3 separate regions of the Homo sapiens genome follow, and regions 2 and 3 are each linked to region 1. Evidence: fine-mapped expression QTL. A gene starts in region 1. Each other region holds a variant in brackets. All regions are shown on one strand. Distances are between the middles of the regions.

What was found.
Region 2: its variant is fine-mapped to the expression of MYLIP in aorta (GTEx, PIP above 0.99). The same link has a PIP of 0.9 or more in tibial artery.
Region 3: its variant is fine-mapped to the expression of MYLIP in whole blood (TOPMed, PIP 0.93).

The regions. Positions count from the first base shown.
Region 1 is chr6:16,126,461-16,130,636 of GRCh38, reverse strand. MYLIP (myosin regulatory light chain interacting protein) reads right to left here and starts at 1,551. Exons shown (of 7, transcript NM_013262.4): 1 at 1,228-1,551; 2 at 1-80. The coding sequence starts at 1,314. RefSeq lists a silencer at 870-1,869.
Region 2 is chr6:16,192,118-16,196,393 of GRCh38, reverse strand. No RefSeq gene overlaps it. Among named protein-coding and RNA genes, the nearest start is that of GMPR, 44 kb to the left of the region's middle. The variant G/A (reference allele first, on the strand shown) is at 2,637.
Region 3 is chr6:15,885,983-15,890,258 of GRCh38, reverse strand. No RefSeq gene overlaps it. Among named protein-coding and RNA genes, the nearest start is that of LINC02543, 110 kb to the left of the region's middle. The variant T/C (reference allele first, on the strand shown) is at 2,290.

The DNA of each region.
Region 1 (4,176 bases):
AGCCATAAACTTTCACCTTTGCTACCCGTAAACTGCAGTCCAAAATAGTCAACTTCTATGATTCCCAGTCGCCTGCACACCTAAAACAAAAAGGAATGCAGCCTGGATGAGCAAATGGTACGTATCAAAGCAAACCCAACGGCTCCCTGAGGCTAAGATTGCTGGTGCTTTTTACAAAGTTCAATGGTGTTACAATTCCTGATCTAAACTGGAAAAACAAAGTTCCACGGCTCCAATGATACCAAACCACGAGCTCTAGTATGGAGGCTCATAATTCCTTTTAACGTCTAGGGCATGACCAATTGCAATAGAGAAAAAAGGAGTCCTCAAAAGTAGCCTTCCAAAAGATGAGGAGGGGAAACTACAGGGTATTTTCCTTCGTATTCCAATCACCGGAATTCCCTCCACCAGCATACTCTGCACAGCTGATTTTTGGCGACTTATTATCTGGGCAATTTTAACCATTTGGACTCCAAAAATCAAACACATTGAGGGAACACGCCACAAGTGTCAGCTAAGCTTCACAAGCGGTTTTCCAAACATCTCAGAGCTAGAGGGGTTGAGGGCACAGCGTTTTCCTGGGATCACATGTGCTGTCTGCCATACCACCTCTGCACTATTTGGCACCGATCTCCCTCACTGTTAAGGAAACACATGCTTAAAAACAACCGAGCAGTAGATGACCCAAACCTATTCCTCCCGTCCCCCGCAAACCCGGAGATGCAGGTGAACGGTGCATTTGAGAGCAGCAGCCTGAGAAGCAGCGTGAGACAAGGGCCCGGCTTGTCTGCCAAGAACCCCTGGGGCCCGAGACTGCTTCGAGCCACTCCATCCCATCCTGGCACGCGGGTGGCACTGCCAGGCGCCGCGGGGACCCGACAGGCGGCATCACGCACATACCTGCGGCAGGTGTGCGGAGCCGCCTTCTTCCGGGAAAGTGCTGGGTTGGGGGGATGATGGGGCGCTGGGGGGTGGATCCCGGCTGCGGGCTGCGCCCGGCCCTCAGCGCTGGGGACCCCCGCTGCGCGCTTTCTCCGCGCACCCCACGCGCGCCAGGAGGAGACCGCGCGCCCCACGCCCGTGGAGAGGAGGGGACGCGCTCCCCCCGGCTGCCGCCGCAGTGCCTCCCGGCCCCTAGTAGGGGGCGCGCCAGAGTGCCAGGCGTCGCTGCGAGGCCCCTCGGCCTCGCGGGACCCGCCGGGGCCCCTTCTTGCCCCTCGCCCTCACCTGGTTGAGGCAGTCCTCGCCGTTGGCTTTCGCCTCCACCTCCACCTCCATCAGCACCGCGTCCGGCCTCGTCACATAACACAGCATGGCTGGGGCTGCCGCTGCCGCCACAGCCGCCTTCTCTTTGGTGTGCGCGGGGCTGCCGCCTTGTCACTGGTGGGACCCAGCCCCGGACTCGGAGAGGGCTGGCCCTCGAAGGCTGCAGCTCTGCGGACCCTTGTCCGGGGCCCCGCGGCCGCCACTCGCGTCCCCGCCACCCCCTCACCCGCTGCCCGCCAGCTGCCCCTGTCCTCCGCGGTGGCGCCGCACTCCAGCAGCCCAACTGCCTGCGCTGCGACAGGGACTCTGCTGATATAGCGGCCCCGCCCCCTTCAGCTCGGGTCCCCGCCAATCACGGCCTCCCTGCCCCTCCTCCCCCGCCCGATCAGCCAATAGCGGCGCCCCTCGACCGCGGCCCCCGCCTCCCAGAGCCGGCTGAGTTTCCCTGGCCGCCCCGGGAGGTGGCAGCTTGCGGGCGCCGAGTGCTGCGGGAAGGGAGGGAGACCCCGGAACACACCAGCCGCCTCTGTCCGCTGGGCGACGCTGCTCAGAGTGAGCGATCGCCCGGGGCTCCAGGCGGGGACGCCTTTCTGCCGTCTCGAATTTACGGTGATTAAACACCTCCAAGCTGCCACTGTTCTTCAAATATCTTGGATCACTCTGAGCACGCATTTCGGTTGTGAAAGCAAAAAGGAAAAGGAGCAACCCAAAGCCTAAAGAAAACTGTTCTCGTCCGGGCATGGTGGCTCACGCCTGTAATCCCAGCACTTTGGGAGGCCGAGATGGGTGGATCACCTGAGGTCAGATTCGAGACCAGCCTGGCAAACATGGTGAAACCCCCGTCTCTACTAAAAATACAAAAAAAAAAACAAAATAGCCAGGCGTGGTGGCGGGCACCTGTAATCCCAGCTACCTGGGAGGCTGAGGCAGGAGAATCGCTTGAACCCAGGAGGCGGAGGTTGCAGTGAGCTGAGATTGTGTCACTGCACTGTAGCTTGGGCAAGAAGAGCAAAAAACCCTGTCTCAAAAAAAAAAAAAAAAAAAAAAAAAAAAAGAAAAGAAAAAGAAAAAAGAAAAAAAAAAGAGAAAAAGAAAACTCTTTTCCACCAGGATTAGCCACAGTGGGTTGCTTGGAGGCAGAATTGTTGTTCCTTATTAAGACCTCATCATTGAGAAAAACAAAATCTGAGTATGAAAGTTTTTGCAGCTGACCAGTGAGCCAGGTGTCTTGGTCTAGTGCTGGTGTGTTACACTCCGGAAGGGCTTCTCCTTACTCGTTCTGCTGAATCAAAACGCCTTACAGGGTACCAGGCCCTCTCTCAGGTTGCTCATTCTACCTCCTGTCTTATCTCACTCATTCATTAAACATTTGTGCAGCACCTGATACCCTGCCTGTCCCTTCTCACAGGCAACCAGATGTTGTCCTCGTCTTAAGGTAAGGTGCTCATCTCCTGACCTAACAGGTGGCATTACTGCAATATTAGCTATTAAAGGTCTACAACCCTTCACTCATTTACCGCTTGTTCCTCTTTGCCAATATATTACATAGCCTACCTTTTTGATTTCTTTATAGGAGCCAGATGATGTGGGTTTCAGCCGTGGAAACTTAGCAAACTTACTTCAGGCCAGCTCGATGGCTCACACCTGTAATCCCAGCACTTTTGGAGGCCGAGGCAGGAGGATCGCCTGAGCCCAGCAGTTTGAGACCAGCCCGGTTTCGCAACACAGCGAAACCCCATCTCTACACAAAATACAAAAAATTAGCCAGGCGTGGTGGCGCCTGCCTGTAGTCTCAGCTACATGGGAGGCTGAGGTGGGAGGATCACTTGAGCCTGGGAGTTCGAGGCTGCAGTGTGCTGTGATCCCCCTACTGCACTCCAGCCTAGGCGACAGAGCAAAAGACCCTGTCTCTAAACAACAACAACAACAAAAAGAAAACAACGAAAGAAAAAAAAAGAGAAAACTTACTTCATCTGTCTGAAGCTTGGTGTTGTCAACAGTAAAATGGAGATGGCAATATCTGCTCTGTCTCCACCCAGCATTGTTGGGAAGCGCAGCAAAGATAATAACGTTCACAAAAGCATTTGAATGTCCCCGTGTATGTAAGGGGAGCTATAAGTTCAGTGCCTTCACTGCTTAATGATGACTTTTCCTGTCCCTACCCCCCTTCACGAGTCCCAAGGATCTGTTAGTGGCCTTTATTTCCGAACAACCAGGTACGATATCAGAGCCCAAGGCTAAAAAAAAAGGAGGGATCCTCCCACACACAGTTCTTTGCTAAAGCTGACCGAGTAAAACTGTAAACTGTCCAAGTCCTAACCCCCACTGTTGCAGAGGAACAGGTGCACTCTCACATCTTTCTGTCTTATAAATACACCTCATGCTATTGTGGGCTGAAACAGTCCCTTCTTGTATTAACTGCAGTGCCTATTCCCTGAATTCCAGTTTACTAATAATCTGGGGAATTTATCTGGAAGATAGCGTTTGGTTCATTCCTTGTCTACTTTATGCTTAATTGCTAGAAGTTTCAGAAGAGGAAGAAGAGGCGAGGGGCAATAGGGAGACCAGTTATATTGGTTAGTATTTTTGTTTATGAACAATAGAAACTAAAGCTGGCTAACTGGAAACTCATAGAATCAATGGGACCAGGTGTGGAAATGAGTAGAACGGGAAAATATTGGTTGGCCAAGAAAAAAAAAATAAACAAAAATAAAACAAGCAAACACCCAAACCAAATACCCACTTTGTGGACTACTTTAAAAATAACTTATATTTTTGGTTTTAGCAGGGATTTTTCTTTTGCAAGTATGATTTCATTGTTTTTTTAAAAAATCTAAGCTTGTAAAATAGTTTGTAGAAGCATAGGTAAAATCTGACATGTTTATTTTATTTAAAACTTTTTGGCCAGGC
Region 2 (4,276 bases), 66 kb before region 1:
GGCATGCACCACCACGCCTGGCTAATTTTGTATTTTTAGTAGAGATGGGGTTTCTCCATGTTGGTCAGGCTGGTCTCGAACTCCCAACCTCAGGTGATCTGGCTGCCTCAGCCTCCCAAAGTGTTGGGATTACAGATGTGAGCCAGTGCACCTGGCCCAGAACCTTCTATTCAGCCGTTTTGCTGCCTACTTTAGCATTTTCTAATCTAATCTCAGAATCTGTTATATGAAGGAAATCTATTAATGGGAACCAGTCTATTATTTGGAACTAATGTTGCAAAGAATGTATTTTAAGAAACATTGCATTATATCATACAGCCACAAATAAACTTGCATTTCTGGATGTGTGAACCATATTAAAACATTTTTTATATGGAATATTTCAAATATATGTGAAAGTGGAGAGAATAATATAATGAACTCCACATACTTATCATCCAGCTCAGTAATGGTTATTAGTTATTTTTTTCTTTATATCCCCATGCATTTCCCCAGTCACTCCCAATTATTTTTATTTTTATTTTTTTTTTAGAGGCATGGTTTCACTAAGTTGCCTAGGCTGTACTTAAACTCCTGGGCTCAAGCAGTCTCCCCTGCTTCAGCCTCCTGAGTAGTTGAAACTTCAAGCTTGGGTCACTGTACCTGGCTTCTCCCAATTATTTTGAAGCAACCCTTAGACACCATATAATTTTATTTGAAATATTTTAGTATGTATCTCTGAAGACTCTATTTTAAATGTAATTACATCATCATCTTATCCCCCAAATTGTAATTCTAATTCTTTAATATCCATGTTCCTATTTTCCTGATTATCTATAAATGTTCTGGTTCTAATTTGCTTTGTTGTTTTTTGTTTTAAAGTGCATTTGAAATAGGATCCACAAAGCTCTATATATTACTGTTGGCTAATAATAAGTTCTTAAGTTTCTCTCTCTTTTTAAAATATTTAAATAGGGTCACGCTATGTTCCCCAGGCTGGTCTTCAACTCCTGGGCTCAAGAGATCCTCCCACCTCAGCCTCCCAAAGTGTTAGGATTACAGGTGTGAGTCATCATGCCCAATCCTCAAGTCTCTTTTAATGTAAATATTCTCCCTCCTTACATTTGTCTTTCATTCTTGTGATTGTTGTTGTATAGAAGAAATAGACCCTTTGTCCTGAGTTTCTCATAGTGTGGATTTTTCTGATTTCATCCCCACAGTGTTGCTTAACATGCTCCTCTGTCCTCTGTATTTTCTGTTAGATACAGGTGCTTGAACAGATTTTTTTTTTTTTTGCAAGACTATTATATAGGTAGTGTGGAATACTTCCATCAAGAATCATAAAATGTCACTTTCTAAATGTTACCAGCCATTGTTGATCATTGCTGAGAAACATTAATTCCTTAATGATTCAAATAGTGATATTTTAATTATTTCTTCTTCATTTGTTGGGTAGATTACTTATGTAAAAAGAAACTTGCCCTTGTTAAATATTTGGTTACACTGAGATACAGTTCATATAAAAAATGAAAGAAAAAAATGCTTGATTCTTTCTCCCTATTGATCAGTTTTCAAAATAGTGCATCGGTTCCCTAGAGCCTCTAAAGAATACCAAATGTGTTTCTGTTTCAGTGTTATTATAAACCAATGGATTTAAATACAGTCCATGTGTTTCAACAAATATTTTCTATTTGTTTACATCCATTTTAATTCTTCTCTTTATTGATGCTCAAATTTGTTCCTCTTTGCTCAATAAGAGCTCTTCAGCCTTAAAAAACGATCCCAGTCATTTTCCTGCCATGTGGTATGACAAGATGTTCTATGCTCATCTTGTACATTTCCAGCTCCAGATATCAAATCAGCCATTTCTCCAAAGTGCCCTGGTTTCTTTTAGTGGGAAATGGTATTTAGAAACCACAATCTAAATATGACATTTCTGAGTTTAATATAGACAAAATCTCCTCAGGCTTCACTTATTTCATATGACAAAAAGCAAAAACCAAAACACCTTATTTGAACTTGGTCAATTTATTTTCTTACTTTCAATTTTCTCATTTGTAAAATGCAGATGATAATAATCCTTGCTTATAGGTTTTGGTGCAGATTAAACAAGTCAATACATGTAAAGCATTTAGAATAGCACCTGTGCAAGCGAGCGCTTAATAAATGTTAATGATGATGGTGATTGAACACAGCATTAGCTTTATAATCAGATCTCGATATATGGTGATTGATTTTAAGATCAAAATATTCTTCTTTGACAACTAACAACTCTCCTTGATTATCCATCCAGACATCCCAAATTCACTTGACCTGCTTTCAGCATTCACATTATTGCAGCGGGGTTCAATGGAAGAAGTCAAGGAGAAAGAGCAACCAACTTCAAAGTTATTTTTTGCTTCTTGGAAGACCATCTGCTGTCATGACCCATTTCACGACATGCAAATTCATCAGCTGAGCTCAATTTCCCTTGAATCAGTGGCCCAGTAAATATAATTACTCTGCTAATTTTAAATTCCAAATGGTCAGCTCAGGTTAAAGAATGCTCATTCAGCAGTTGAAATTCTATAACGAATTGAGAAAACAGAGGGTCTACATGCCAGGATTTTGACAGAGAAGCAGGGAACAATTTTGTTTCTTGTCACCTCCTAGGCCAC[G/A]GGCACACAACAAATAGGAACATTTCCAAATATTTTCCTCTGAATTTTTTTTGTGTGTATGTGTTTGAAATAGGAACTTGACACTTCAGAGAATGGGTAAGGAAATGTGTCTTCACAAACCTGGACTTTTCAAGACTAGGCTGATCTCTTTAAGAGGAATGGGGTGGTTGGTTCTAGAATAAACTATTCAAAGCCCACATTAAAAATAAAGTAATTTGTGACAATGAAACGTTTTCGAAATAATGCATTTGTTCCCTAGAGCCTCTAAGGAACATCAGTGTGTTATTGGACTGGATAATGTACCAAAAACTGCTTTAAAGGATATTATTAGGACAATTATTAGGACATCAGTGTGTTATTGGACTGGATAATGTACCAAAAACTGCTTTAAAGGATATTATTAGGACAATTGGTAAATTTGGCATAAGATTATAGATTAAGGTATTATGTCAATATTAAGTTATCTGAATTTTATTACTTTCTTGTTCTTAGAAAATATACACTGAAAAAATATACGCTGAGGAGTAAAGGGTCATGAAGTCTGCAAAGTACTTTTAAATGACCCAGAAAAACTTAATGTGTGTGTCTGTGCAGACAGAGAGAGTGAGGAGAGAGTGCATGCACACACAAGAGCTCAAGTGTGTCAAAATGTTAAAAATGGATATGGTGAATTTGGGTAAAGGGAATAGGGGAGTTCTCTATAGAATCCTTGACAGTCTGTTATAAATTTAAAATTATTTCTAAATAAAATGTTTGTTTTTGCTTGTTTTTTTTGAGACAGAGTCTCGTTCTGTCACCCAGGCTGGAGTGCAGTGGCGCGATCTCGGCTCACTGCAAGCTCTGCCTCCCGGGTTCACACCATTTTCCTGCCTCAGCCTCCCGAGTACCTGGGACGACAGGCACCTACCACCATGCCCGGCTAATTTTTTTGTATTTTTAGTAGAGACAGGGTTTCACCGTGTTAGCCAGGATAGTCTCAATCTCCTGACCTCGTGATCCGCCCACCTCGGCCTCCCAAAGTGCTGGGATTACAGATGTGGGCCACTGCACCTGGCTAATTTTTTGTATTTTTAGTAGAGATGGGGTTTCACCTTGTTAGCCAGGATGGTCTCGCTCTCCTGACCTCGTGATTCGCCTGCCTCAGCCTCCCAAAGTGCTGAGATTACAGGCATGAACCACCGCGCCCAGCCAGAAAGGATTTTTAAACCTAGTGTTATCCCAGCAGCTGAGTGCACTGGCTCATGCTCGTAATCCCAGCTACTCAGGAGGCTGGGGAGGGAGGATCACTTGAGCCCAAGTGTTCAAGATCAGCCTGGGCAACATAGTGGGATCTTCTCTCTTCAAAAAATAAATAAAATGAAATATATTATTACCCCATTAAAACACACTTTCTCCAGCTGGGTGTGGTAGCTTATCCCTATAATCCTAGCACTTTGGGAAGCCGAGGTGGGCGGATTGCCTGAGCTCAGCAGTTCAAGACCAGCCTGGGCAACATAGTGAGATCGCCCGTCTCTATTAAAAATACAAAAAATTAGCCAGGCATGGTGGTGCACGCCTGTGGTCCTAGCTACCTGTGAGGCTGAGACAGGAGAATTGCTTGAACTCAGGAGGCGGAGGTTGCAGTGAGCTGAGATTGCACC
Region 3 (4,276 bases), 240 kb after region 1:
GCCATGTTCAGGAAGCTAGGCATTTCCAGAACATTCTATGCACTGATATTATTTTGTCTTTTTTTGTTTGTTTGTTTATTTTGAGACAGAGTCTCACTCTGTCGCCCAGGCTGGAGTGAAATGCCACGATCTTGGCTCACTGCAACCTCTGCCTCCCAGGTTCAAGTGATTCTCCTGCCTCAGCCTCCTGAGTAGCTGGGATTACAGGCACACATGACCATGCCTAGGTAATTTTTGTACTTTCAGTAGAGACAGGCTTTCGCCATGTTGTTCAGGCTGGTCTTGAACTCCTGACCCAGGTTATCTGCCCGCCTTGGCCTCCCAAAGTGCTGGGATTACAGGCATGACCCATCACGCCTGGCCTTGCTCTGATATTATTTTGGAGGGTTGCATAATTTTACAATTCTATAATGGGTAAAGAAATATTCCACTAGACATGGGTAGGGTTCAGAGGAGAAAGAAAAGGAGAATCTGAACCACAAAAATAAATAAAATTAAATAGTTCTTTACTGTGGGATTCCTCAGAAACTTTACTATACTAGTGTGCATGTAAATCTTCAAGAGCATTTCTCAAGCACATTTGATCACAGAATCCTCCCACCACCCTCTCCACATTCCATTGCCTAACATCTTCTGGAACATTCTGGTGAGTACTTTGAGAAATGCTAGTTCAAAAGGTTTCTATTTGGCAAGAGGAAAAGAGCAGGGTGCTGAAGGAAGCACAGACACAGAGCTGGCGCCCTCAAGGACTTGATTCCACATTGGGAACAAAGGCTTTGTCTTCTGGGAGGCCGACCTCAGAAGTTGATGGGTCTTTTTTATCATTGCTTGTTAAGACCAGCAGCAGAGCAGTTGGTTGATCAGCAGTGTCGTTGTCTCCCAACTGCTGTGAGCCATAAGGAGTTCCACATGTGGAAAGTCTGTTAGTAGCACAGGACGTTTGGCGTCCCTGTGGAGACAGAGTGAGGATTGACAGCATGTGTTTGGTGCTCTTCTCTGGCCAGGGCAGAGAGGAAAGCAGAGGGAGATAAAGGGTCCAGTCCCGCTCAGACCTAGCACTCCCTAGGACTGCTCTGCTGACTGCTTCCAAATTCTGGCAGCGTGTGCCTAAGCCAGCTTTCTTAGGTATAAAATGGGGATATGTACTACCTAAGCGTTCTTGTGGGGACTAAGTATGAACCATAAGGACCTGTGCAAATATTGGAGGTTACTTTTTTTTTGGAGACAGGATCTCACTCTGTTGCCCAGGCTCAGGCTAGAGTGCAGTGGTGCAATCATGGCTCACTGCAGGCTTAACCTTCTGGGCTCAAGCCATCCTCCTGCCTCAGCCTCCCAAGTAGCCTCCCAAGTAGACGTGAGCCACCAGGCCCAGCTAATTTTTAATTTTTTTTTAGAGATGAGGTCTCCTTATGTCGCCCAGGCTGGTCTCAAACTCCTGGGCTCCAGCAATCCTCCCATCTCGGCCTCCCAAAGTGCTGGGATTACAGATATGAGCCACCACACGCAGCCTGGAAGTTACTTTCATTATCATAATTATTATCACCAATAAGATTCTCTTGCTAAGTTCATCTGAATGATAACCCAGGGGAAACTTGATTTGAGAATCCATAACCATGCACAATTTTTGCACTAGTTTTTCATAAATGTTGCAGAGCAGGAGAGAGAGAGATGGAGAGAGACACACACACACAGTCATTTATTCAACAGTGTGGGGGTCCTAGAGTCTTTAGAAGGAAAGTGTTTGTTGTATGTGCTCTCTGAAACCTTGAAAGTGAGCTGAAAATCCACATCATTCTACTGTTTAATAGTCCATGGTCTCCTGTCATCATTCCAAATGTGTCTTATTGACAGACGGTTTCTTTGGGAGAGCACCTCAATGATTAATTGAATAGAAAACACCACTCATCTTTCTGCAGGCCGGCGCTTGTTTAGTAAGGTTAAATTGAAGCAATGCACAAGGAATGGAGAGAGTAGAAGAGCAGCTTATTTTCCTTCAGGCTTTTCTCATCATCCCAATTCTATTTTTGCAGACATGACTGTGAACATGGAGACAGCTTCCACCCACCTTAACCAGACATATCTAGTCCTGCTGGCGACTCTCAAGCTGGAGCCTAGCAACCCAAAGTCATGGTTCTTTTCATTAATAATCCTTCTTGATCCACTATTTCATCCTGTTTTATTTACTAATTTGCTAGAATATGCATTGAACTTATTCTCGAATTGGCACTGTGAACTCTCTGTTCCTCCTTTTATTGTGCAATTTCATTCTGGGTGGGTTTGTTTTGTTTC[T/C]AGCTAAATAGCTTCCCTCCTTTCCCCTCCACCCATCCTGTGTGAAGATCCACCCTTTCTTTTTTTGGTGCCACTTTCAGGCCCTGGACAATATCTCCCTTTGATGGCCTTCCTCTACCCAGATAGAACTCCGTGGAGTTTTTCTGTCTGCTGAGACCATCCACGTGGTATTTGGTCTAACGGGCCCCAGCATGCCTGGAGAGATAGAAATACACATGCGCTTTGAATGGGACCTTTACTTCTAATACACAAGAGAATTATGTCTTTCTGCTTGATAAATATGACCATGCTGAGTGCCCCTGACTTTCAATCTTACAAAAACCAAAATAGCAATAAGCTTTCATGCATGTACTTGGGTTTCACAGGTGCCATCTCATTAAGTCCCCAATCACCAGCTCTCTGCTGAGCTTCACTAGTGGGAGTGCGTGCTTGAGCAACCTTCTCCTCATTCAGAGTCAACAGGAAGCAGGCAAAGGTGCAGCTTGCTCTTGGGGGTCTGGAAGTCAAGAGAAATCGGTTGTTTTGAGGACTTAAGAGAACTTTTTCAATTCATAAGCTCCATAAAATGTAGGGGAATCTCTTCTAAAATGTAAACAGCCATATTATAGCTTGGGATATGCTACAAATTAGGTGTGAATGTACACACTGAGGCAGGTGCACCTTGCCCGGGACCCCTCTTTCCCCACCTTCTACCCCCGATATCTCCACAGATTCCCTCCCTCCTTTCACTGAGGTTTCTGTTCAAATATCATCTTATCAAAGAAAGTTCCTCTGAACTCCTCTTCTAACGAAACATCCAGACTTGTCCCCTCCCATCCCCTTACATTGCTTTGTTTTTCCTTTTAGCACTTATCATGAATAACATACTACTTTATTATACTCTTTTTAGTAAATATCCAATACCATGTAAAAAAATAGTAAAGGTTATAATTTTAAAACAATAAAAATGATTTTTTTAAGTGATAGACCAGGGTAAATTAAAGAAAAAAATAAGGAAAATACTTTTTAAAGGCATTGTGCTATTTCTTTAGTTATGGTGTTTGAGATGCTGTGTGATATGGGGGAAGGGGCTTGGCTTTGTGGAGACACAGACTTTGATGCCCGTTCTGGCTCTCTGATGTCCAGGCTTAGTGGCATTGGTTCAATCCCTCGCCCTTTGAACCTCTATGTCCTCATCTGAACACAGAAATAATCATTCGTATCTTTCTAGGATAATGGTAAAGATCAGCAAAAAATCTACAGTGTGCCTAGCATGAGGTCCACCCTTATTAAATTAGAGTTACTATTGTTACCTTAATTTAAATTCCATTAGTGATATGTTTCCTTATTTAATTCAAGTAGCTGATAGCATTTAATTTGTGAAATCAGTGTCACGAATGACATTTCTCGCTTTGGACAGGAACTGAATTACTTATTACCATGGAAGAGTAAGTTTACTCACTTTGCAATTATAATATTAATATAGATTCCTGGTACTTCAGAAACTGTTCAGCCTTATTGATACACAACTGAAAAATTAAAATAAGCAATGGTACCGCCCACCAAAAAATAGAAAGAAAGAAAAAAAGAAAAGAAATGAAAAGTCATAGCATACTACCTCACCAAAGGAGGCAGACAAGGAGGCTTAAGCTATACAACTTGATCTCTGACCTTGGAAAAATGACCCAAAGTACAGTGTGAACTGATGATAAGTTCTTAATAACTGACTTGTTTTCTGAGAGCCTGGCTATTAAAAAAAAATTCCCCTTTCTGACTATTATTATATTCAATTTAAAAATATTATTAAGTGATTGCAACTTATCACACCCTATGCTTGGCCTTGGAATACCACTATGCATGGGTCAGATCCAGACCTGTTTCCCAGGACTCAGATGCCAGTGGGAAATAGAGACAAGTATAGATTCTCTACCACCCAGTGTGGTAAGAGTAATGATGGATAGGAAAGCAGCACATATTACAGTGTTGGCAGCCATCTGTTTCTTCAGTT